Regions from separate parts of the Homo sapiens genome. Here regions 1 and 3 are each linked to region 2. The links come from fine-mapping of genetic effects on gene expression. A gene starts in region 2. Each other region holds a variant in brackets. All regions are shown on one strand. Distances are from middle to middle.

The links.
Region 1: its variant is fine-mapped to the expression of ZNF473 in sigmoid colon (GTEx, PIP above 0.99).
Region 3: its variant is fine-mapped to the expression of ZNF473 in prefrontal cortex (GTEx, PIP above 0.99).

The regions. Positions count from the first base shown.
Region 1 is chr19:49,182,916-49,191,095 of GRCh38, reverse strand. It overlaps TRPM4 (transient receptor potential cation channel subfamily M member 4), which reads right to left. Exons shown (of 25, transcript NM_017636.4): 11 at 8,174-8,180; 12 at 7,884-8,018; 13 at 2,326-2,455; 14 at 2,005-2,150; 15 at 776-888; 16 at 323-400. Among named protein-coding and RNA genes, the nearest start is that of TRPM4, 29 kb to the right of the region's middle. RefSeq lists enhancers at 1,707-2,206, 2,207-2,708. The variant T/C (reference allele first, on the strand shown) is at 3,839.
Region 2 is chr19:50,022,662-50,030,841 of GRCh38, reverse strand. ZNF473 (zinc finger protein 473) reads right to left here and starts at 4,837. Exons shown (of 5, transcript NM_015428.4): 1 at 4,720-4,837. It overlaps VRK3 (VRK serine/threonine kinase 3), which reads left to right and starts at 5,470. Exons shown (of 15, transcript NM_016440.4): 1 at 5,470-5,575. RefSeq lists enhancers at 4,684-4,733, 5,144-5,193, 5,534-5,613, 5,663-6,164.
Region 3 is chr19:50,612,048-50,620,227 of GRCh38, reverse strand. No RefSeq gene overlaps it. Among named protein-coding and RNA genes, the nearest start is that of SNAR-F, 11 kb to the right of the region's middle. The variant T/G (reference allele first, on the strand shown) is at 4,831.

The DNA of each region.
Region 1 (8,180 bases), 840 kb after region 2:
GCTCAGTTAGTTCACATGAGATCTATGTGGCACCCCTACTCCTGCTTCTGCTCTCGCCATGTGATACACTGGCTCCTCCCTCACTTTCTGCCATGAGTGGAAGCTTCCTGAGGGCTCACCAGCCGCAGATGCCAGCACTATGCTTCCTGTACAACCTGCAGAACCATGAGCCAATGAAACCTCTTTTCTTTATAAATTACTCAGTCTCAGGTTTAGCAACTTTGTAGCAACTCAAGAGGGGACTAACACAACGTGGAACTGGCACATGTCCTGAACTGCCCAGGGTGTCCCCACCTCACACAGTGCTGGAGGCTCCACTCACCCGACAGGCCCTTCCCCATTAATGACACTATCCATGTCAAACTCTAGCTCCTCCCGTGTGGGCTCCTCTTCTGATTTCCTAGCAAGGGGGGAAGCACAGAGCAAGAAATGAGGGGAAGAGAAGGTGGAGAGGCATTCTCCAGCAAAACTCAAACTTCTTCACCCGGAGACATGGCAGAGGGACAGAGAGGTGGTCTCCTAAAGTCATCCCAAAGGGACCTTCCCCCAGAGCCATGGCCAGAAAGGCAGAGTAACTGCCACTAGAGATACCACAGGGAGGATCCCCCCCAAAACTCACCTCCCACAGCACTCCCTTAGTGGAGGGACAGAGAGTCCCATTCCTAGGGAAGGGACACAATGGGCCGATGAGGGAAGAAAGGTGGGCAGAGGGGGCAGGAAGGAGAAACTGAGCACCCCGCCCCCATCCCCACCACTCTCACCCCAGGGTACTGACCTGAAGGTGATGAGGCGGGTGTAGATGAGTGGAGGGCAAAAGAAGGCGAGAACCAGGGCCCAGATGGGTGTAGTGCTGGCCATATCTCCCCACCACTTCTGTGTCAGCAGAGACTGTGGGGGGTGGGAAGGATTAGGATCCAAATCTCCCCCACAGCCCCGTCCCTAAGACGCCCAGCAAGGGTTGGACTGCAGCTCCAGAGTACAGAGCAAGTGCCCAATGTCACAGCCACAACTATTGAGGTAGGGAAACGGTGGTGAAAGGCAAAGACAACTTAGGCCAGGTTTTGGCAGTAAACAGTCAACACTTAAATTGACACCATATGGCAGATACAGGGCTAAGCACTTTATGTAGATTAGTCCACCGAACCCTTGACACATAAGGGGGTGGGTACTAGTATCTCCTCCTTGGTACACATGAGGCACAGAGAGGTTAAGGAAACGGCCCAAAGAAACACAGTTTGTATGTGGTAGAGCTGGAATCCATGAGTTTAACCACTATCCACAGCAAGGGACTCTGGGTAGCTGTTTGAAATGTCAGCCAAACCATTCCAACAGATGAGGATGGGACTTCCTGTTGGGCACAACTTCCTGTACTAAAGTGGGACTCTGAGCCCCTGTCAGATTTAAACTAAAAATATTGATAATGTTTCCAAAATGTCAACTTGTCAGGATCGGAGAGACTGTGGGAGCAAGTAGGGCTTCCCAAGGCAGATGATTTCCTATAGGAAGGGTGAGATTTCCTAGACCAAAGTTTGTTTATGTCCAAAAAAAAAAAAAGGTAATTGTTCAGTGAGGCCATTCTAACTGCTGAAAACTGAAACTAGGGACCTCTAAAGGAAGTGGAAAGGACTTCCTGTGGATGCCGTAGGACTTCCTGTGGATGAGCTAGGACTTCCTTTGAAAGAAATGGACTCTTCCCTGAAAGCGGGAAGGACTTCCAAGGTTAAAGGTGGAATTTCCTGACAGGGTCACAAGGAGTTTCTCTATCTGGAGTGGAACTTTTTAGGAAGATGGGCTTTGCCGTGGGAAGGTTGGCTTTTGGTGGAAGGGAGCGGGGCTTCTTATGGGAAGAGCAGCCTTTCTGAGAGAGAAGAGAGACTTTCTGGGGGATCTCCAGGGAGAGTGGCTGGTCAAGACCATAGATGTTCCCAATGGCAGGGGCTCATCCCCATACTTCCCAGAGTCCACTTGGAGACTGTTTGGGATGTTGGTGTCGCAGATACTCACCTGTACCCCATCCTGGGCAAAGAAGGCACGGGCGTCAGCTTGCATGGCCAGCTGGAGGCAAGTGGCATCCCCCCAGAGCGGGCAGCGACGGAGGAGGAGGCGGGCAGCCCTCACCTCACTGCTGCGATAGCACTCGCCAAAGAGGTCTGGGGCAGAGGAGTTAGTTATGTGACAGGGATGGGAAGGAGTAGGGTGAGGGTGTGAAGGGAGAGGTAAGGGAATTTAAGGGGATGGCGCAGGGATATGTGAGGAGTGCGGAGTTGCACATCCCCCTCTGGCGGCAGCCCCCGTCCCTGCTCCCAGGCACCGTGCCCCACGCACCAACGCCCATCCCCTCAAACTTGAACGCCAGGTCTTTCCTCCGTGCTGCCTCCTCAGCGTCAGGCTCCAGGCGTGCCATCACCCGGAGCAGCAAACAGGCCCCAAGAGCTGAGGAAACTGCATTGGAACCCTGGAGAGACAAAGAGGGCACGGATGCGTCAAAGAGGGTTCATAGAGGGGGAGGAAGCCTGAAGTCAAGGGAAGGAACAGAGTCAGAGGTCAGAAACTAACTGGGGTCATCAGAGGCCAAGGATGAAGTAATGTTTGGAGATGGATCTGGAAGAAACTGAAAGTCAGTTGAAAATGCCAGAAGTCAGGTGGTTCAGAGACCAGGGATGCAAGTCAGGGGCTGGGCTGCAGTTAGAATCAATTCAGCAGTCACAGACAGGTCAAGAAGCAGTTGGAGGCTGGGTAAAGTGGCTCACGACTATAATCCCAGCACGTTGGGAGGCTGAAGTGAAACCACCTTTGCAAAAATGATAACTGAGAAAATTATGACAATGAAAGAAATCAGACCTAACCGACTCCATCTTGCTTCTAACCCTTAAGCTGTCCTCGCTCATTCCTGGGCATAGGCTGAACTAACTTTGGGAAGGAATTCTGTTCATGGTTTGACTCTGAAACGAAATTGATAATAGCCCTTTCCCCAAAGACCCCCATCTTGCCTGGGGACCAGTCTACCTTTGCAGGACTAACAAATTAGCTACAAGATTAGAAATTAAGTTTAGGGGTCACGCAGCCTCTGGCTCCCCCAATTGCTCCTGGGGATAACATCATTACTGTAACACCTAAGATGAGTGCTTGAGATAGTTTGCAGACCCTGCACTGGATGGATCAGCTGACACCACCCAGACTGTAGTCTGGCTCAACCAGTTCTGCCATCCCACCCAGGAACAGAAAACAGCAAGAAAAACCTCACTTCCAACCCCTGTGATTCCATCTCCAACCTGACCAATCAGCACTCCCCACTTCCCAAGCCTCTACCCACCAAATTATCTTTAAAAGCTCTGATCCCTGAATCCTCGAGGAGACTGATTTGAGTGATAATAAAACTGAGGTCTCCCGCACAGCCGGCTCTGCGCGAATTACTCTTTCTCCATTACACTTTCCTTGTTTTGATAAATCGGCTCTGTCTAGGCAGCGGGCAACGTGAACCCATTGGGTGGTTACAAATGAGGAGGATTGCTTGAGCCCAGGAATTCAAGACCAGCCAGGCAACATGGTGAGACTCCATCTCTACAAAATTTTTTTTTTTTTAGTTAGCCAGGCGTGGTGGTCTGCTTCTGTAGTCCCAGCTACTAGGGAAGCTGAGGTAGGAGGATCGAATGAGCCCAGTAGGTTGAGGCTGCAGTGAGCCATGATCATGCCACTGCACTCCAGCCTGGATGACTGAGGAAGACCCTGTCTCTAACAATGAAATTTTTAAAAGCCCTTGGAGAGGTGACCAAAAATGCCAGTGTAGGGAACTTCAAAACTTTATCCCTCCACAAAAGCAATCAATAGCTATCAAAAG[T/C]TGTCAGAATCAACTTTTCTAGAATTCTGGAATCTAATCGAAAACTTATAAAAAAAAAAAAACAAGAAAATGCTTAATGAAGAGACCACTAAATTTCAGTAAGAGGGTACTGTGACATTTTAACCTACCCACTTACTACCCCCAGCTCCCCAGTTCAGTGGCAACCTTGAAGACAAAGACACACATTCCTGGTGTGGGTCGCTAGTACTAGAGGGAGCAATTCAGACTTACCCTCCAGAATTGTGGTTGTGTGTGTGGCCCTATCTGGTGGCTCCCTGAAGCAACAGCTCAAGGACTTGACTTTGCTTCACCTGCCTTAGAGCTTTCCCCAGAGAAAAAGTGGCTTTCCAGGCAGTGTGTGTTAAAATCTTTTTTTTTTTTTTTGAGACGGAGTTTCACTCTTGTTGCCCAGGCTGGAGTGCAATGCTGCAATCTCAGCCCACCACAACCTCTGCCTCCGAGGTTCAAGCAATTCTCCTGCCTCAGCCTCCCGAGTAGCTGGAATTACAGATATGCGCCACCATGCCAGGCTAATTTTTTGTGCTTTTAGTAGAGATAGGGTTTCTCCATGTTGGTCAGGCTGGTCTCGAACTCCTGACCTCAGGCGATCCACCTGCCTCGGCCTCCCAAAGTGCTGGGATTACAGGTGTGAGCCACTGCACCCGGCCTGTTAAAATCTTTTAAAGGCAAATGAATTAACCACATCCATCTGAGGCAAGGACTCACAGTAGAGGCAGTAATAGATACACTAAGCATCTTGGGAAGAAAGAGGCCATGAAAGGAAATACTTGGAGGGAATAAGGGCTTTGAAAGTCTTCCTTGTGTACCAGGAAATCCAGACGGCTAGATGCATGACTAGGGCTAGAGGCGTGCTCAGAAAATACCAGAGAAAACCTGAAGCTCTTACATCTGGCTGAACTTTAGGCTCTGCACAAGCAGGAAGTGAAGACTAAAGCAGAACTGTAAACAGCTTGGCTAAGTATTGAAAGACTGCTTCAATATACAGCCACGGTGGGCGTCGCTCATGCCTCTAATCCCAGCACTTATAGGGAGTTTCTTGTTATATTTGCTTCTGTGGTTCTAGGCATTTAAGGATATCTCTGTCAAGTCACCAGCAGACCACTAAGCTAACAGAAGAGGGGCTTCCATGGCCACACATGCAAAGAATACAGACTTTCCAAAAAAGGTTTAGAGAAGTCACTAAACAGGGTGGGCGCGGTGGCTCACGCCTGTAATCCTAACACTTTGGGAGGCCAAGGTGGGTGGATCACCTGAGGTCAGGAGTTTGAGACCAGCCTGGCTAACATGGTGAAACCCCGTCTCTATGAAAAATACAAAAATTAGCTGGGTGTGGTGGCACACACCTGTAATCCCAGCTACTTGGGAGGCTGAGGCAGGAGAATCACTTAAACCTGGGAGGTGGAGCTTGCAGTGAGCCGAGATTGCACCACTGTACTCTAGCCTGGGCCACAGAGTGAGACTCCATCCCCCCTCCCCCCAAAAAAAAGAAAAAGAAAAAAGAAAAGTCACTAAACAAACAACAATGACCCACAATGAGCAGCAGCCACAACAAACCCTGGAGGGAGGGCATAAGCTGATTTCCAGAGTTGCCACATTATCATATTCAAAATGTTCCACTTTTCAACCAAAAATTATGAGGCATGCAAAGAAACAAGACAATATGGTTCATATACTGGAAAAAAAAGAAATTAATAGAGACCAGGCATGGTGGCTCACACCTGTAATCCCAGCACTTTGGGAGGCCCAGGCAGGAGGATTGCTTGAGCCCAAGAATTCAAGACCAACCTGGGCAACATAGTAAGACCCCATCTCTGCAAATTTTTTAAAATTAGCTTGGCATGTGGCTGGTAGACCCAACTACTCAGGAGGCTGAGGTGGGAGGATTGCTTGAGTCCAAGAAGTCAAGGTTGCAGTGAACTTTGGTCAAACCACTGCAGTCCAGTCTGAGTGACAGAATGAGACTCTGTCTCAACAACAACAACAAGAACAACAAATAAATAAATAAAAGAAAAGAAATGAAATGAATAGAAATGAGTAGGAAAAAAATAAATGAATAGAAACTATCCCTGAGGAAACTCAGACACTGAACTTACTAGCAAAGGCTTTAAATAAATTGTCTTAAATATGCTCGAAGAGCTAAAGGAAATCATGAAAAAAGAACTAAAGGGAGCCAGGAAAAAGATGTCTCACCACCTAGAGAATAAGAATACAGAGATAGAGGCAGGGTTTCCTGAAACTGGGTTAATTCTTTATAGAAATGTGAACACTGAATTTATTTTTTTAAAAATAAAAATTAAAAAAAAAAGAAAAAAACACAGAAAACATCTTATCTGTATATAGGTCTTGAGTGAAGTGGCTGCTTTTTTTTCTGCTTTTTGTAGAAGAGATTGAGAATGGTACTGTAATCAAAAATAAAGTTTTGTAGTGGGACCAGGAAAAAAAAAAGACAGACTACAGAGGCCGGGCGCAGTGGCTCACGCCTGTAATCCCAGCACTTTGGGAGGCCGAGGAGGGCAGATCACGAGGTCAGGAGATCGCAACCATCCTGGCTAACACAGTGAAACCCTGTCTCTAAAAAAATACAAAAAAATTAGCTGGGCGTGGTGGCGGGCACCTGTAGTCCCAGCTACTTGGGAGGCTGAGGCAGGAGAATGGCGTGGAGGCAGGAGAATGGCGTGAACCCAGGAGGCAGAGCTTGCAGTGAGCGGAGATTGAGCCACTGCACTCCAGCCTGGGCGACTGAGCGAGACTCTGTCTCAAAAAAAAAAAAAAAAAAAAAAAAAAGACTACAGAGACAGAAATGAACCAAATAGAAACTCTGAAGCTAAAAAGCACAATAACTGAAATATAAAAACCACTAGAGGGACTCAACAGTAGATTCATAAAAAAGGCAAAATAAAGATCAGTGAATTTGAAGCTAAGTACATTGAGATTATCCAGCCTGAGGAGAAAAAAGAAAAACAAATGAAGGAAAATAAGCAGAGCCTAAGGGACTTGCGAGACACCATACAGAATATTAATACATACATAATGAGAGTCCAAAAGGAAAAGAGAGACAGAAAGGGAAAGAAATAATATTTGAAGATATAATGTCCTAAAAACTTCCAAAATGTGATGAAAGACAAAAGTCTACACATCCAGGAAGCTCAAGGAACTCCAAGTAAAAGAAATTCACAGGCCAAGCACAGTGGCTCACGCCTGTAATCCCAGCACTTCGGGAGGCCAAGGCAGACAGATCACAAGGTCAGGAGATCAAGACCACGGTGAAACCCCATCTCTACTAAAAATACAAAAAATTAGCTGGGCGTGGTGGCGGGCGCCTGTAGTCCCAGCTACTCGGGAGGCTGAGGCAGGAGAATGGCATGAACCCAGAAGGTGGAGCTTGCAGTGAGCCGAGATCATGCCACTGCACTCCAGCCTGGGCAACAGAGCAGGACTCCATCTCAAAAAAAAAAAAAAAAGAAAAAGAAAAAGAAATTCACAGAGATCCACACTGAGATATATTATCAAAGGCCAAAACAAAGAGAGAATCTTGGCCAGGCACGGTGGCACATGCCTGTAATCCCAGCATTTTGGGAAGCCGAGGCGGGTGGATCACTTGAGGTCAGGAGTCCAGCCTGGCCAACATGGTGAAACCCCATCTCTACTAAAACAAAACAAAACAAAACAAAAATTAGCCAGGCGTGGGGGCAGGTGCCTGTAATCCCAGCTACTCCGGAGGCTGAGGCAGGAGAATTACTTGAACCCGGGAGACTGAGGGTGCAGTAAGCCAAGATTGCGCCACTGCACTGCAGCCTGGGCGACAGAGCGAGACTCTGTCTCAAAAAATAAACACATAAAATAATGCATGATGTGAGAGAGAGAAAAGAAAGAGGAAGCAGTTGGAGGCATATATCAGCGACGGAGGATGGGGCGCCTGTCAGGTGACGTCAGGGGTCGGGGAATTGTATGGTAATTGTTTCGGGAACACTGGCATCCAGTGGCCTAAAGGACAGGGATGCAGGAGCGCCAAGTCAGCACTCACCATCTCCCAGAAGTACATGGCCATCTGTGCCCTGTTCAGCAACAGTGCCCAAAGAAGCAGGTCGCTCCAGGGGGCCTGCCCGAGGCCAGCATCCAGCGAGAGCGGCGAGGTGGCCTTGTCCGAGAGCAGATACATCTGCCAGCAAAAGGAGGGGTGGTGAGGACCAGCCCCTCCCCAACACTGGCCACCACCAGCCCTGCCTCTGGTTTGGCCACGCCCCATCCCTGATGTAATCCCGCCCCCAGGTCCTTCCCGCGCGGGGGGGCCCCCCAGCTTTGCCCGGTCCTTACGCTCTCC
Region 2 (8,180 bases):
TTTGCACTGTGCTTCAGAACCTACAGAACAGCTTCGCCACCAACAATGGTGGGTTAGCACCTAACAGTCAGTCAGCACATGTTTAGGAGATTTGGTGATGAAAGTCTATGGCCACAGTGGGAGCTTCTGTCTTGCTCACTGCTGTGTCTTAGCACCAGCATGGTGCCTAGTACGCAGTAGGTGCTTTAACAGTAGGTGTAAAAGTACCTACAGTTGTTGACAGAACGAAGGTGTCTAAAGAACCAATGGAACAATGCTTCTGGGATTTCTGATTATCATCTCTGGAATTTGAGTTCAGGTAAATTGGCCTCCGAAACTGTTACTCTTTTTTGGAGACACGGTCTTGCTCTGTTGCCAGGCTGGAGTACTACAGTGGCACAATCATGGGCCACTGCAGCTGTAATTTCCTGGGCTTAAGCAATCCTCCAACCTCAGCCTCTCAAGCAGCTGGGACTACAAGCATGTGCCACCACATCCAGCTAATCTTTTTCACTTTTTGTAGGGACAGGATCTCACTTGTTGCCCAAGTTGTTCTCAAACTCCTGACCTCAAGTAAGCCGCCCTCGTGGGCCACCCAAAGTGCTGGGATTACAGTTGTGAGCCACCGCACCTGGCCACTATCTCTACAACAGAAATATTTCAACTTTTGTTTTAACCGTGACCCACAGTAACACCACCAATATGTAGAATAGGCCAGGCACAGTAGCTCACGCCTGTAATCTCAGTACTTTGGGAGGCCGAGGTGGGCAGATTACTTGAGGTCAGGAGTTCAAGACCAGCCTGGCCAATATGCTGAAACCCCGTCTGTACTAAGAATACAAAAATTAGCTGGGCTTGGTGGGACGTGCCTGTGATCCCAGCTACTCGGAAGGCTGAGGCAAAGAATCACTTGAACCCGGGAGGCAGAGGCTGCAGTGAACCGAGATGGTGCCACCGCACTCCAGCCTGGGCAACACAGTGAGACTCCATCTCAAAAAAGAAAAAAAAAAAGTATCATGACTACTCAAACACACAGTGTAACTAAACAAAAGCTTCATGAAGCAATACTTACCCTGCAATGTAAGATGCACTGGGATGTTTTCTATTCTAGTCTCTTTTATTCTACTTCATTAAAAAATCATAGTCACTGCCCACCTAGTTATTTTCATGACCCATAATACGCAAAACTGTACCACAGACATTTTTACCCATTTGTATCCACTGCGTGGACCAAGTAGCACATATCTGCGGAGTGCTGAAAGCATTTCATATCACAAAGCAGCACGGATCACTTAACAATGACACAGGTCCACAAATTCTTCAAACTCCAAGGCCAGATGTGCTTTGAAATTCAACTTTTATTTTCAAAAGGTGATATGGCATATACATGGCATATTTCATTAAAATCCCAGTGCAGGGCTGGCCGCAGTGGCTCATGCCTGTAATCCCAGCACTTTGGGAGGCCAAGGCAGGCGGATCACGAGGTCAGGAGATCCAGACCATCCTGGCTAACGCGGTGAAACCCCGTCTCTACTAAAAATACAATAACAAAATTAGCCAGGCATGGTGGTGGGCGCCTGTAGTCCCAGTTACTCAGGAGGCTGAGGCGAGAGAATGGTGTGAACCCGGGAGGTGGAGCTTGCAGTGAGCCGAGATGGCGCCATGCACTCCAGCCTGGGCGACAGAGCGAGACTCCGTCTCAAAAACAAAAACAAAAACAAAACAAAACAAAGTCCCAGCGCAGTGTGGATCAGGCTGCATTTCATAATTGAACACTTTACCCTAGAGAAAAGTATCATCGTTCATTCTAGGTAGAATAATTTAAAGTTATATTTAAAAAATACCCTGTAGTAGTTCAGGTAAGGCACGGACACTAAATTTATGAAAAAAAATTTGTTGTTCTGAGTTGTCCAGATTTTTGAGACTACAAATATGGGAATATGGTAGACCTACAATAAATGCTAATTCTACTGAACAATGAGTTTTTCTACATGTCAGAGGTTAAGCCTCAACCTACGAGTATAACTCAGTTGACAGATATTTGGCCCATAATGTTTGTTGGCAGACAGAATGTTTTGAAAGAAAATTCAAGCATGGCTCACTAGTCTCAAACTTGAAAATTGGGAAATTTCACCTAAAAATTATGTTTCCAACTTCTGAAACATCCTAGGATTTGGCAACATTGGGTCTACATCCCACGAAGTTAGTTCACTGGTGCCCATTTAAAGCTCCCCCACCAGTGCTAGGCAAGTGGGGGATGCTTATAATCCCAGCACTTTGGGAGGCTGAAAGGTGTTCGAGACCAGCCTGGGCAACGTAACAAGACCTTGTTTCTAAAAAAAAAAAATTAAAAATGAGCAAGTTGTGGTGGCACGTGCCTGTAGTCCCAACTACTTGGGAGACTGAGGTAGGAGGATCGCTTGGGAGGCTGAGGTAGGAGGATCACTTGAGCCCAGGAGTTCAAGGCTGCAGTGAGCTATGATTGTGTCACTGTACTCCAGCCTGAATGACAGAGAAAGATCCTGCCTCCAAAAAAAAATTAAATTTGTTTTTTTTTTTTTTTTTGAGACGGAGTCTCGTTCTGTCGCCCAGGCTGGAGTGCAGTGGCGCGATCTCAGCTCGCTGCAAGCTCTGCCTCCCGGGCTCATGCCATTCTCCTGCCTCAGCCTCCTGAGTAGCTGGGACTACAAGCGCCTGCCACCACGCCCGGAGAATTTTTTGTATTTTTAGTAGAGACGGAGTTTCACCGTGTTAGCCAGGATGGTCTCGATCTCCTGACCTCGTGATCCACCCACCTCGGCCTTCCAAAGTGCTGGGATTACAGGCATGAGCCACCACACCCGGCCAAAAAAATTAAATTTAAGTTTAAAAAGCGGCTGGGTGCAGTGGCTCATGCCTGCCATCCCAGCACTTTGGGAGGCCAAGGCAGGCGGATCACCTGAAGTTTGGAGTCCAAGACCAGCCTGATCAACATGGTGAAACCCCCGTATCTACCAAAAATACAGAAATTAGCCAGGCATGGTGGTGCACGCCTGTAATTCCAGCTGCTTGGGAGGCTGAGGCAGGAGAATCGCTTCAACCGGGGAGGTGGAGGTTCCAGTGAGACCGAACTCCAGCCTGGGTGACAGAGCGAGACTCTGTCATCAAAAAAAAAACACAATTCTCCCCTTCAGATGAGGCAAGTGCTCCCCAAGGCCCCGCAGCCTCACCTGGACCAGTTCTCTTCTTTCCTGTATGTCATCTGCCTGGCCCTCACAGACAGCTGAGCTTGAGATCCCTGTCTGCAGTTACCAAATCACATTCTGCCCACATCTCATATACTCTCAGCTCTGGGAGGAAAGAAACGAGGGCCCAGAGGTGGAGCCCAAGGTCATCCAGCCCAGAGTGACTTAAGCCAAACAATTATCAGGCTGAGAGACCTTGGGCCCAAGAGTCTTGCCCTTCCTTCCAGACCATTTACCTTCTCTAAGCCTTAGTTTCCACATGTACCAAATGGAACAAATACAACAGATCTATGGTCCTTTAAATGCTCCAAAAACCAGAACTTGATTTATAAACTGACCGCAAAACTTCACCTGGATTGCCACAGGCCATGTAGGGTCTTAATGTTCTCATAAGTGTGAATATTCACACCTTGCCCCACAGAAACATTTTATGACCAAAAACTGGCCCAGATTCCTCGGGGTGTGGGGGGGTGCTGCCTAATTATAAAATATGCACCCTATTAGCTTTCTAAAATCTGAAAAATTCTGATTCCCGAGATTGCCTTGGTGCCAAGGGGACCTGCACTTATGTCTCAGTGCTGCTGCGGGGATCAGAAGAGGAAATGCAACTCCAGCAGGGCGCCTGGCACACAGAAAGCACTCAAATACTGTAAATGTTAAGTACTTCAACTTCCCGAAGAACTCCCATCCATCGTCCAGCAAGATTCTGCCTAAATTTGCCAACTTCAGGTAACTCATTCCCCTCCTTCCCCAACCAAAACCAAAATAAAACAGAACCACTCCTCTCAGGGCCATCAGGGAGGCCTGGAAACCCCTTTAGCAGTTTTCTTTTCTTTTCTTTTCTTTCTCAGCTCACTGCAACCTCTGCCTCCTGGGTTCAAGCAATCCTCCCACCTCGGCCTCCCAATTAGCTAGGAATACAGGGGCGCACCACCACGCCCGGCTAATTTTTCTATTTTTTTCTTCTTTTGTGGAGACAGGGCTTCACCATCTGGCCCAGGCTAGCCTCGAAATCCTGGGCTCAAGCGATCCGCCCACCTCAGCCTCCCAAGGTGGTTTTCTTCCTTTCTTTTTTTTTTTTTTTTTTTAAGATGTAGTCTCGCTCTGTCACCCAGGCTGGAGTGCAATGGCGCGATCTCGGCTCACTGCAACCTCCAGCTCCTGGGTTCAAGCGATTCTCCTGCCTCAGCCTCCTGAGTAGCTGGGATTACAGGCCCCCGCCACCACGCTCAACTAATTTTTGTATTTTTAGTAGAGACTGGGGGTTCGAGGAACTCCTGGCTGTAAGTGATCCCCCCCGCCAAGGCTTCCCAAAGTGCTGGGATTACAGGCGTGATCTACCGTGCCCAGACCTTGAGCGGTTTTCATAACAGACTGTGAAAGACGGTTCACACCTTCACCCTGACAACCGCCGCCCAAGGCGACGCACCCTTTGCCGAAGTCGCCCCCACTTGCATTCCGTCACCTCTCAGGAAGGACCGAGCCCGCAAGTCCCTCAGCCCCAGCGTCTCCGTACCTCGGGATTGTAGTCGGCCGCGTCAACAGACGCAACCCCAGCCTCAAGGGAGCGGGAGATTCAACTCCCCGCACACGCGCCTCCTCGCAGCGACTTCCTGTGCGCGAGAAGCTTCTCTGAGCGGCTGCACCCAGGATCCTCCGCGGCAGCGCCAGGACTCTATTTCCCAGAGGGCTGTGCGGGCGACTTCTTTCGCCTTCCCATCTCCTCCTGCTTCTTCAGCCTTAGCACTGTGGGAGTAGAGTAGAAAGAGAATCAGGACCAGGCGGCATCAGTTTGTAGTCCAGATTTTTACCTTGTTAAAGAATCATCTAATTAGCTTCTTGCCTTTACTAGAAGTCAGGGAGTGTTAACCTTTTCCGAAGAGCAAGCGGTAGGTTGCCATGGAAACGCGTTGTGACGGGTTTCTGAGAAAACAAGCGGAAGTAAGGGGCGGAGTTGAGGCAGAAGTTTAGGTAATGTGACCTCTGATTGGTGGAGAGGTACCTCACGGTGCATTCCGATTGGTCTGACACTGACACATGCGCAGTAGAACCAGAAGGCGTTCCAAAGCGGCTAGAACGGAGGGGAGGGGGATGAGCAATGAGGGAATAATCCCCATTCCGTCTGGAATCAGAGGGCGGGCCTGCCGCGGAGGCATCTGGGAAACGGAGTTCCCAGGCAGGCGAAGCCCAGGGGCCGTCAGGAAGTCAGCGGCGCCTGCGCGGGCGCCTCAGATTCAGGATGCGCGCGCAGCGCTCTCCGCCCAGCGGAAGTTTTCGCTGGGCAACTGAGAAGGTGAGTCCGGGTAACTGCGGAGGATCCGAGGGTCAGGCTGCAGAAGCCCAGAATCCCACCCCAGTCCCCAAGTACAGAGGTGAGGGGAAGCGAGGCGAACGAGGGGACGTCCCCCGACCCCCTAGCCGCAGCTCGGCCGGGGCGTCCGTGACGTCAGCACGACCGTTTGTGGGAGGCGGAGGCCCCTGCTGTCGGGGTTCGGAATGAGAGCGGCTCCGGGTCGCGGGGTTCACTGGCCTCCTCTTGAGCTTCCCAAGCCACCTTGGGCTCCGTGTTGGGCATGGCTAAGGCGGAGATGGGCGGAACTTGTGGGAAGTTCGACAGCTCCTCCGCTGTGAAACTTGGCGTCTAAGTCATCCCGTGGTTTCTATGGAGGTGCGGCCGAAGGGAGGCTCTGTCGTCGCCTAGGCAATCGCCCCACCTGCGCTGAGGTGGGGTCTGACTTTTAGCCTTTTTGCTGTGCTGTTTCCTGAACTTTCTAGGAGGAACACTATACAGTAGTTGACGCATAGCAGCTGTTCCCTAAACATTTGTTGAATAAGTCAAATAAATTAAGATAAAGACTGGCCTGAGGGTTGGAGTCTTAGGGTTTCAAGTCCTGACCTGGCCATTGCATAGGTGACTTCAGCACATCCAATTTTATTGAGCGTTTACTATATGGAAGGCTCCGTGCAACCGATATTACACTACTATAACCTGGGTTTGAACGGTGCTAGTCTAATAGGCACTGTTCAAGCCCAGGTTATTATAGCAGTGTCTAAAACAAAAATCCTGCCCAGCTAATTCACATTCTCAGGGTGGTTGGGGATGCCAGACACTAAAAAAGAAATGTTAAAGAATATTTACAGGTCTGCAGTCCCTTATCTATAACTTTAAAATCCAAAACGTTCTGAAAACTGAAAGGTCTTTTTCTCTGTTTTGCAACTTACTTGGCAGGCCAACCTCACCTGGCTTTGAACTTGTTTGCTGGCAATACCCACTCTGAACTGATGTGTGACTATTTAGAATTTTTAAAGATTTTGTTGTGCAAATCATATACTTATGGAGAGTTGCCCCTGGATCTCGCCGGTGTTGTAATATGTAATAGGTTCTAAAATCCAAAAAATTTGGCTGGGCACGGTGGCTCCCGCCTGTAGTCCCAGCACTTTAGGAGACCGAGGTGGGCGGATCACCTGGGTTCAGGAGTTCGAGACCAGCCTGGCCAACATGGTGAAACCCCATCTCTACTAAAAATAAAAAAATTAGCCGGGCATGGTGGCATGCGCCTGTAATCCCAGCTACTCGGGAGGTTGAGGCAGGGAGAATCGCTTGAACCCAGGAAGCGGAGGTTGCAAGTGAGCTGAGGTCGTGCCACTGCTCTCCAACCTGGGTGACATAGCAAAACTCTGTCCATCATGCAATACATGGCAGAAGCAAGATCCAAACCCAGGCAGATTATTTCCCAAGTTTATCCTCTTAACCCCTGTACTGATCTGCTTCTAAGTGGCACGTCTTTTTTAGGGACCATCCAGCTAGATAATTCCGGCCCTGAGCTTTGAGTCTCTGGCTGGATGTCTAGATTTGCCTGAGAGATGAATGTGTACTGACACAGCTGGGGACCCCCCCCACCCACCTTCTTGGCACATTTTCTTTTGCAAAGGAGACAATGATTTATTCACTCAGCAGACGTAGACCCAGCATTTGCTCTGTGCCAGGCCTGTTTGAGGCTCTGGGCACACTGTGGCAAACAAGGCAGGGAAAAGTCCCCGCCATCATGAAGCTTACATTCTAGTAAGTCAGAGTATGTCAGGTAGTGACAAGCACTGTGAAGAAAAATAAAGCAAGGTAAGGAGGATAAAACATGCTATTAGTAAAATGGTGTCCAGGGCCAGGCACGGTGGCTCGAGCCTGTAATCCCAGGACTTTGGGAGGCTGAGGGGGATCACCTGAGGTCAGGAGTTTAAGACCAGCCTGGCCAACATGGTGAAACCCCATCTCTACTAAAAATATAAAATTAGCCAGGCGTGGTGACACGCATCTGTAATCCCAACTACATGGGAGGCTGAGGCAGGAGAATCACTTGAACTCGGGAGGCAGAGTTTGCAGTAAGCCGAGATCGTGCCATTGCACTCCAGCCTGGGCGAAAAGAGCCAAACTCCATCTCAAAAAAAAGAAAAGAAAAAACACAGTAAAATCGTGTCCAAGAAGGTCTCTGAGAAGGTGACATTTGAACAGAGAGCTAAAGAATGTGATGAGGAAGTTAACTGTGTGCACTCTTAGGGGGACAGCGTTCCAGGCAGATGGGAGAGCAGGTGCAAAGGTCTTGGGGAAGAAACGTTCTTGTCACGATTGGGGAAAAGCACCGAAGCTGTTGTGGCTGACTCAGCGTGAGCAAGGGGAGAGGTGGGAGAGGTCAGAGAGGGAACAGGGAAGTGGCAGATCATACAGGGGGCTCCTGGGCCATGGTAGGAATTTCAGCATTTATTCTGTCTAAAATGAAATCCACCATACGGTTTTGAGTAGAGGAGGGACAGGGTCTGACTTACATTTTATTTATTTATTTGTTTATTTATGAGACTGAGTCTTGCTCTGTTGCCCAGGCTGGAGTGCAGCGGTGCAATCTTGGCTCATTGCAACCTCTGCCTCCCAGGTTCAAGCGACTCTTGCGCCTCAGCCTCCCAAGTAGCTGGGATTACGGGTGCCCA
Region 3 (8,180 bases), 590 kb before region 2:
TTGGGAGGCTGAGGCAGGAGGATCGCTCAAGCCCAGGAGTTTGAGACCAGGTAATATGGTGAGATTCTCTTAAAAAAAAAAAAAAAAATTGGCCGGGCATGGTGATGTTCACTTGTAGTTCCAGCTACTTTGGAGGTCGAGGTGGGAGTATTGCTCGAGCTCAGGAGTTCGAGACCAGCCTGGGCAGCATAGCAAGACCCTGTCTCTACAAATAATAGTAGTAGTAGTAGTAGTAATAATAATAATAATAATAATAATAATAATAATAATAATAATAAAATTATCCAGGTATAATAATAATAATAATAATAATAATAATAATAATAAAATTATCCAGGCATGATGGTGCTCACCTGTAGTCCCAGCTACTCTGGTGGCTGAGGCAGGAGGATCACTTGAGCCCAGGAGTTTGAGGCTGCAGTGAGCTGTGATGGCACTGCTGCCCTGCATCTCAAAAACATGATGCCGTGTGATACAGCCAGATACAAGGGTATATGCTGTAGGATTCCACTTTTGTGAAACTGTAGAAAGAAAACACTAATATGGGCAGGGCATGGTGGCTCACGCCTGTAATCCTAGCACTTTGGGAGGCTGAGGCAGGCGGATTACTTGAGATCAGAAGTTCAAAAGCAGCCTGGCACCTGTAATCCCAGCTACTTGGGAGGCTGAGGTAGGAGAATCGGGAGGCGGAGGTTGCAGTGAGCCGATCATGCCACTGCACTCCAGCCTGGGCAACAGAGTGAGACTCCAACTCAAAAAAGAGAGAAAGAAAGAGAGAGAGAGAAGGAAGGAAGGAAGGAAGGAAGGAAGGAAGGAAGGAAGGAAGGAAGGAAGGAAGGAAGGAGAGAGAGAGAAAGAAAGAAAAAAGAAAAGAAAAGAAAAGAAAGAGAAAGAAAGAAAGACGCCAGAGGCCAGGCACAGTGGCTCACCCTGTAATCCCAGCACTTTGGGAGGCCAAGGCAGGTGGATCACGAGGTCAGGAGTTCAAGACCAGCCTGGCCAACATGGTAAAACCCCATCTCTACTAAAAATACAAAAATTAACCGGGTGTGGTAGCGAGTGCCTGTAATCCCAGCTACTTTGGAGGCTGAGGCAGGAGAATGGCTTGAACCTGGGAGGCGGAGGTTGTAGTGAGCTGAGATCACACCACTGAACTCCAGCCTGGGTGACAGAGTAAAAGAAAAGAAAAGAAGAGAAGAGAAGAAAAGAGAAAAGAAAAGGCTAATACGCAGGGGCAGAAAATGGATTAGTGGTTGACTGGGGGCAGTGGCAGTGGTTATGGAGAGACTGATTACTAGTGGACACAGGGAAACTTTCCGGATGATGGAAGTGATCACACAACCGAATACATTTGTCAAAATTCATTGCGCTTAAAATTGGTTCATTTAAATTCTTGTACATTGTTGCAAAATACACATAACACAAACTTTATCATCTTAGCCAATTTTTTTTTTTTGAGACGGAGTCTCGCTGCAATGCCCAGGCTGGAGTGCAATGGCATGATCTTGGCTCACTGCAACCTCCACTTCCCCGGTTCAAGCGATTCTCCTGCCTCAGCTTCCAGAGTAGCTGAGATTACAGGCATGAGCCACCTCCCCAGGACTTAGCCAATTTTAAGTGTACAGTTGCATTGTTGTGCAATCATCACCCCTACTCATCTCCACTCTTTCCTCTTGTAGAATTGAAACTGTTCCCATCAAGCAACTCCCACTGCCTTCCCTTCCCAGCCCCTGGGAAGCACGTTCTACTCTCTGGGAAATTCCCTATGAATTTGACTACTCTAGGTACCTCATGTAAGTGGAATCATACAGCATCTGTCTTTTTGTGATGGGATTGTTTCACTTAGCATGAATGTCCTCAGGCTTCACCCATGTTGTAGCATGTGTTAGCATTTCCTTCCTTTTTAAGGTTAAATAATTTTCCATTATGGGCCAGGCACAGTGACTCACACCTGTAATCCCAGCACTTTGGGAGGAAGAGGCAGGCGGATCACGAGGTCAGGAGATCGAGACCATCCTGGTCAACATGGTGAAACCCCATCTCTACTAAACTACAAAAAATTAGCCGGGCGTGGTGGCAGGCGCCTATAGTCCCAGCTACTCGGGAGGCTGAGGCAGGGGAATCACTTAAACCTGGGAGGCGGAGGTTGCAGTGAGCCAAGATCGCACCCCTGCACTCTAGCCTGGGCGACAGAGCGAGACTCCATCTCAAAAAAAAAAATCCATTATGTGTATATACCACATTTTGTCGAACCATTTATTTGTTGATGAACAGCTGGGTTGCCTCCTTCACCTTTTGGGTATTGTAAATAATGCTGCTATGAAAGTGTGTTGCAAATATCTTTTTGAAATATTGATACATTTTCTTGTACACAAATTATATTTTGATAAAGTTGGCTAAAACTAATACTCCCACCTAACATAACTATCTCTAGTGCAACTGCAGAAGCTTTCACCCCTTCTGCAAAGGGAGGGATCCCAAAGCCACATCCAATCCTCAGACCAAGATTTCTGGATATTGGCTATTCCTTTCATCAAGGGCACATGGAGTCTCTCTTGATCCTGAAAATTAATGTTAAGGCTGGGCACGGTAGCTCACACCTGTAATCCCAGCACTTTGGGAGGCCAAGGCAAGTGGATCACCTGAGGTCAGGAGTTCAAGACCAGCCTGGCCAGCATGGTGAAACCCTGTCTCTACTAAAAGTACAAAAATTAGCCCGGCATGGTGGCACACACCTATAATCCCAGCTACTCGGGAGGCCGAGGCAGAAGAATCACTTGAACCTGGGAGGCGGAGGTTGCAGTCAGCGGAGATTGTGCCACTGCACTCCAGCCTGGTGACAGAGCAAGACTCCATCTAAAAAAAAAATTAATGTTAAATGAAATTGTAGCCCCCTCAGCAACCCACCCCTGTGTATAACAGTGGAGGAAAAACAAGAAAACAATCACAATTCTCACTTGAAAGGGGAGGGAAGAGAAACAAAATAGTATATGCCATTTGCTGGACTTGCCAAGACTCCTCCACTTTCAAGAGACAAAAAACTGGCCTTTTAAAAAATTATTGCCAAGCTCGGTGGCTCATGCCTGTAATCCCAGCACTTTGAGAGGCTAAGATGGGAGGATCACTAGAGCCCAGGAGTTCGAGACCCAGCCTTGGCAACATAGCAAGACTCCATCTCTTTAAATATATATATATATATAAATAGCCAAGTGCCATGGTGTGCACCTGTAGTCCCAGCTACTCAGGTGGGAGGATCGCTTGAGCCCAGGAGGTCAAGGCTGCAGTGAGCCATGGTTGAGCCACTGCAGTCCAGTCTGGATGACAGAGACCCAGTTTCAAAAAAACAATTATTGAAGTACAACATACTCACAAAGAAACTCACAAATACCCAGTAAGTATGGATCAGATAACAGACTGAGCACACCATGTAACCATGGGTAACCAGCCCTGGGTCAGGAACTAGAACATTACCAGCTCTCCAAACCCCTCATGCTCCTTGTCAGTCACTTTTTTGTGTTTTTTTTTTTTTTGAGACAGAGTCTCGCCTGGAGTGCAGTGGCGCTATCTCGGCTCACTGCAAGCTCCGCCTCCTGGGTTCACGCCATTCTCCTGCCTCGGCCTCCCGAGTAGCCGGGACTACAGGCGCCTGCCACTATGCATGGCTAATTTTTTTGTATTTTTAGTAGAGACGGGGTTTCACCGTGTTAGCCAGGATGGTCTCGATCTCCTGACCTCATGATCTGCCCACCTCGGCCTCCCAAAGTGCTGGGATTACAAGCGTAAGCCACCGCGCCCGGCCCCTTGTCAGTCACTTCTTTACCTCAAAAGTAACTACTACCCTGATTTCTGACACCATAAGTTAGTTTGCCTTGTTTTTTATCTTAATCTGCTTGGAATCCTACAAGCATAGAGACTTGTGTGTTGGAATTCTCTCTTTTTTTTTTTTTTTTTTTTTTGAGACGGAGAGTCGCTCTGTCACCAGGCTGGAGTGCAGTGGCATGATCTCAGCTCACTGCAACCTTCGCCTCCCAGGTTCAAACGATTCTCCTGCCTCAGCCTCCTGAGTAGCTGGGATTACAGGTGCGCACTACCACACCCGGCTAATTTTTTGTATTTTTAGTAGAGACAGGGTTTCACCATGTTGGCCAGGATGGTTTCTATTTCTTGACCTTGTGATCTGCCCATCTCGGCCTCCCAGAGTGTTGGAATTACAGGCGTGAGCCATTGCACCTGGCCTGAATTGTTTTATTCATCATACGTCTATGAGATTTGTCCATGTAGTTGCTGATTGTTGGAGGTTGTTCATTGTCATTGCTGTATAAGAGTGTGTTATGAGCCAGGCATGGTGGCTCATGCCTATAATCCTAGCACTTTAGGAGGGTGAGGCAAGCAGATAGCTTGAGCACAGGAGTTCAAGACCAGCCTGAGCAACATAGCAAGACCCCGTCTCTACAAAAAAAATACAAAAATTAGTGGGGTGTGGTGGTGCGTGCCTGTCATCTCAGCTACTTGGGAAGCTGAGGTGGGAGGATGGCTTGAGCTTGGGAGGCAGAAATTGCAGTGAGCTGAGATCACACCACTGCACTACAGCCTGGGTGACAGAGGACAATCTTGTCTCAAAAAAAAAAAAGTGTGTTATGGGAATACATAATAATCTATGTATCCATTCTACTGTTGATTGACATTTAGGTGCCTTCTGATTTGGCATGATCACTTATAGTACTGCTATATACATTGAATTTTGGTGAACATATGTAGGCATTTCTGTATTTCTGTTGGGTATATACCTAGAAGTGTAATTGCTGGGTCCCAGGGTGTATACATGGTGTG[T/G]GCATGTTCATCTTTTTTTTTTTTTTGAGATGGGAGTGGCCAGGCTGGTCTTGACCTCAGGTGATCTGCCGCCTCCCGAAGTGTTGGAATTACAGGCGTGAGTCACCATTCCCAGCTTCATGTTCATCCTTCATAGACACTGCCAACCAGGTTTTCAAACTAATTTTCTCCATTTATACACCCACTAGCAGTCTCTGAGAATTTCAGTTGCTCGCCAACATTTGGTATTGTTAGTCCTTTCAATTTTAGCAATTCTGGTGGGGCTGTAGCCGTGTTTTATTATGGTTTTAATTTACCTTTAGCCCAATGCCTAAAGAAATTTAACACCGTTTCGGGCCAGGCGCAGTGGCTCATGCCTGTAATCCCAGCACTTTGGGAGGCCGAGGCGGGTGGATCACGAGGTCAGGAGATCGAGACCACGGTGAAACCCCGTCTCTACTAAAAATACAAAAAATTAGCTGGGCGCGGTGGCGGGTGCCTGTAGTCCCAGCTACTCAGGAGGCTGAGGCAGGAGAATGGCGTGAACCCGGAAGGCGGAGCTTGCAGTGAGCCAAGATCACGCCACTGCACTCCAGCCTGGGAGACAGAGCGAGACTCAGTCTCAAAAAAAAAAAAAAATAGAAAGAAATTTAACACCATTTCAAATATTAATTGGCCATATGAATATGCTACTTTGTGAAATGTCAATTCACGCCATTTGTCCACTTTTTGACTGGTTTTTCTGCCTTTTTTAAAAAACAGGTTAGTAGTTCTTTCTTTATTTTTCTTATGAGTCTTTTGTTAGAATACATATTCTTCTCCCACTCTCTGGCTTCTCTTTTCATTCTCTTAGTGGTATTTTTTGATAAGGATCAGTTTCTATTTTAATATAGTCCAATTTATCAACATTTTCCTTTATAGTTAAGGCTCCTTTGTTTCTGGTTTAAGAAATATTTTCTGGCCAGGCACACTGGCTCATGCCTGTAATCTCAGCACTTTGGGAGGCTGAGGAGGGAGGATCACATGAGCCTAGGAGTTCGAGACCAGCCTGGGCAACATAGCGAGACCCTATCTCTATTAACACAAACAAGTAAATAAAAGAAATATTTTCTTACCCTGAAGGTTCTGAAGATACTCTATGATATTTTCTTCTAGAAGTTTTATTGTTTAAGCTTTAACATTTAGATCTACAACACATCTGGAATCAATTTTTGTGTATGGTGTGAGGTAGAGGTCATATGGCTATCAACTGGCTCAGCCCTATTGATTCAAAAAGATCATCTTTTGCTTCTCACTGCACTGAAATGTTGCTTTTGTCATAAACCAAGTTACCATATATGTGTGAACTTTTCCTGATTTTTCCGTCTTGTTCTTTTGGCCTATTTGTTTTTCCTCGCAAGAGTATGCTGCTTTAATTATTATTATAATAAGCCTTGCTCTCTGGAAAGTACTCTGGCTTTTTTTTGTTTTTAACAAAGGGAATTTGTTGACTTATAGAACCGAGCTGTATAACTAGCTTCAGGCATAACTGGATCCAGGCACTAAAATGAATCTTTAGCAATACAGCTCATTTCCCATCTGGGCTTTACTTTTCTGTATCTTGACTTTCCTCTCAGGCAGAATCTCTTCCCTCACGGTGACAAACAGGGCCCACAGCAGCTCAAAGTTTCCATACTATCATTTTAACAACCTAGCAGAAAAGAGGTACTGCTTTCCTGAATGGTGATACCAAAGTCTCAAGGTTAGCTCTCATTGGTCCAACTTGGGTCACATGTCCATTTCTATAGTAACCATGTGTCTTAGTCCATGTTGTCTTGCTATAAAGGAAAACCTGACGCTGGGTAATTTTTATTTTTATTTATTTATTTTTTTTTTTTGAGACAGGATCTTGCTCTGTCACCCAGGCTAGAGTGCAGTGGTGCAATCTTGGCTCACTACAATGTCCGCCTCCCAGGTACAAGTGATTCTCCTGCCTCCAGTGTAGCTGGTATGACAGGTGCCCGCCACCACACCTGGCTAATTTTTTGTATTTTTAGTAGAGACAGGGTTTCACCGTGTTAGCCAGGCTGGTCTCGAACGCCTGACCTAAAGTGATCCACGAGGCTGGGTAATTTATAAAGAGAAAAAGGTGTATTTGGCTTATGATTCTTCTGGCTGGAAGATTGGGCATACAGAGAAAGTCTTGAGCTGCTTCTACTCTTGGTGGAAGGAGAAAGAAAGCAGGGATCACGTGACAATAGAGGAAGCAAGAGAGGCAAGTGTCAGCCTCTCTTTAACAACCAACTCTAATGGGAACTAATGGAGGAAGAACTCACTCACCCACACTCCCAGGGAGGGCATTAATCTATTTGTGAGGGGTCCACCCCTGTGACCCAAACACCTCTCATTAGGACCCCATCTCCAACATTGGGGATCAAATTTCAACAACGAAATTTAGAAGGCAGCCTGGCCAACACGGGAAAACCCCGTCTCTCCTAAAAATACAAAAATTAGCCGGGCGTGGCATGTGCCTGTAATCCCAGCTACTCAGGAGGCGGAGGCAGAAGGGTCACTTGAACCCAGGAGGTGGAGGTTGCACTGAGCCAAGATTGTGCAACTGCACTCCAGCCTGGGTGACAAAGCAAAACTCTGTCTCAAAAAAAAAAAAAAAAAAAATTGGATGGGACATACATCCAAACTACTGCACATCATAACCAAGGTCATGAAGCACTCAGATTGGCCAGGTCTGACTCTTGTTCTCACTCTGAAATCCCTGGCAAGATCCAGTTAAAAAATGTATATTTTGCATGGGGAGGAGTGATAGGAAAATCAGATGTTTAAGAGAACAAAAAGAGAAGCTATAGATTGTGAGAAAATCTTTTCAAAACACCTTTCAGACAAAAAGCTGGTATCCAGGCCAGGTGTGGTGGCTCACATCTGTAATCCCAGCATTTTGAGAGGCCGAGGTGGGCGGATCACCTGAGGTCAGGAGTTTGAGACCAGCCTGGCCAACGTGGCAAAATGCTGTCTCTACTAAAAATACAAAAATTAGCCAGTCATGGTGGTGGGCGCCTGTAATCCCAGCTACTCGGGAGTCTGAAGCAAGAGAATCACTTGAACCTGGGAGGCGGAGGTGGCAGTGAGCTGAGATTGCGCCATTGCACTCCAGCCTGGGCAACAGAGCAAGACTTTGTCTGAAAAAAAAAAAAAGAAAGAAAGAAAAAGAAAAAAGAAAGCTGGTATACAAAGAACTAAAACTCAACAATAGGAAAACAAACAACCCAATTTAAAAATAGGGAACAGATCTGAACAGACACTTCAACAAAGAAGATATGCAGATGGCAAATAAGTAAATAAAAAGATAGTTGGCCAGGTGTGGTGGCTCCCGCTTA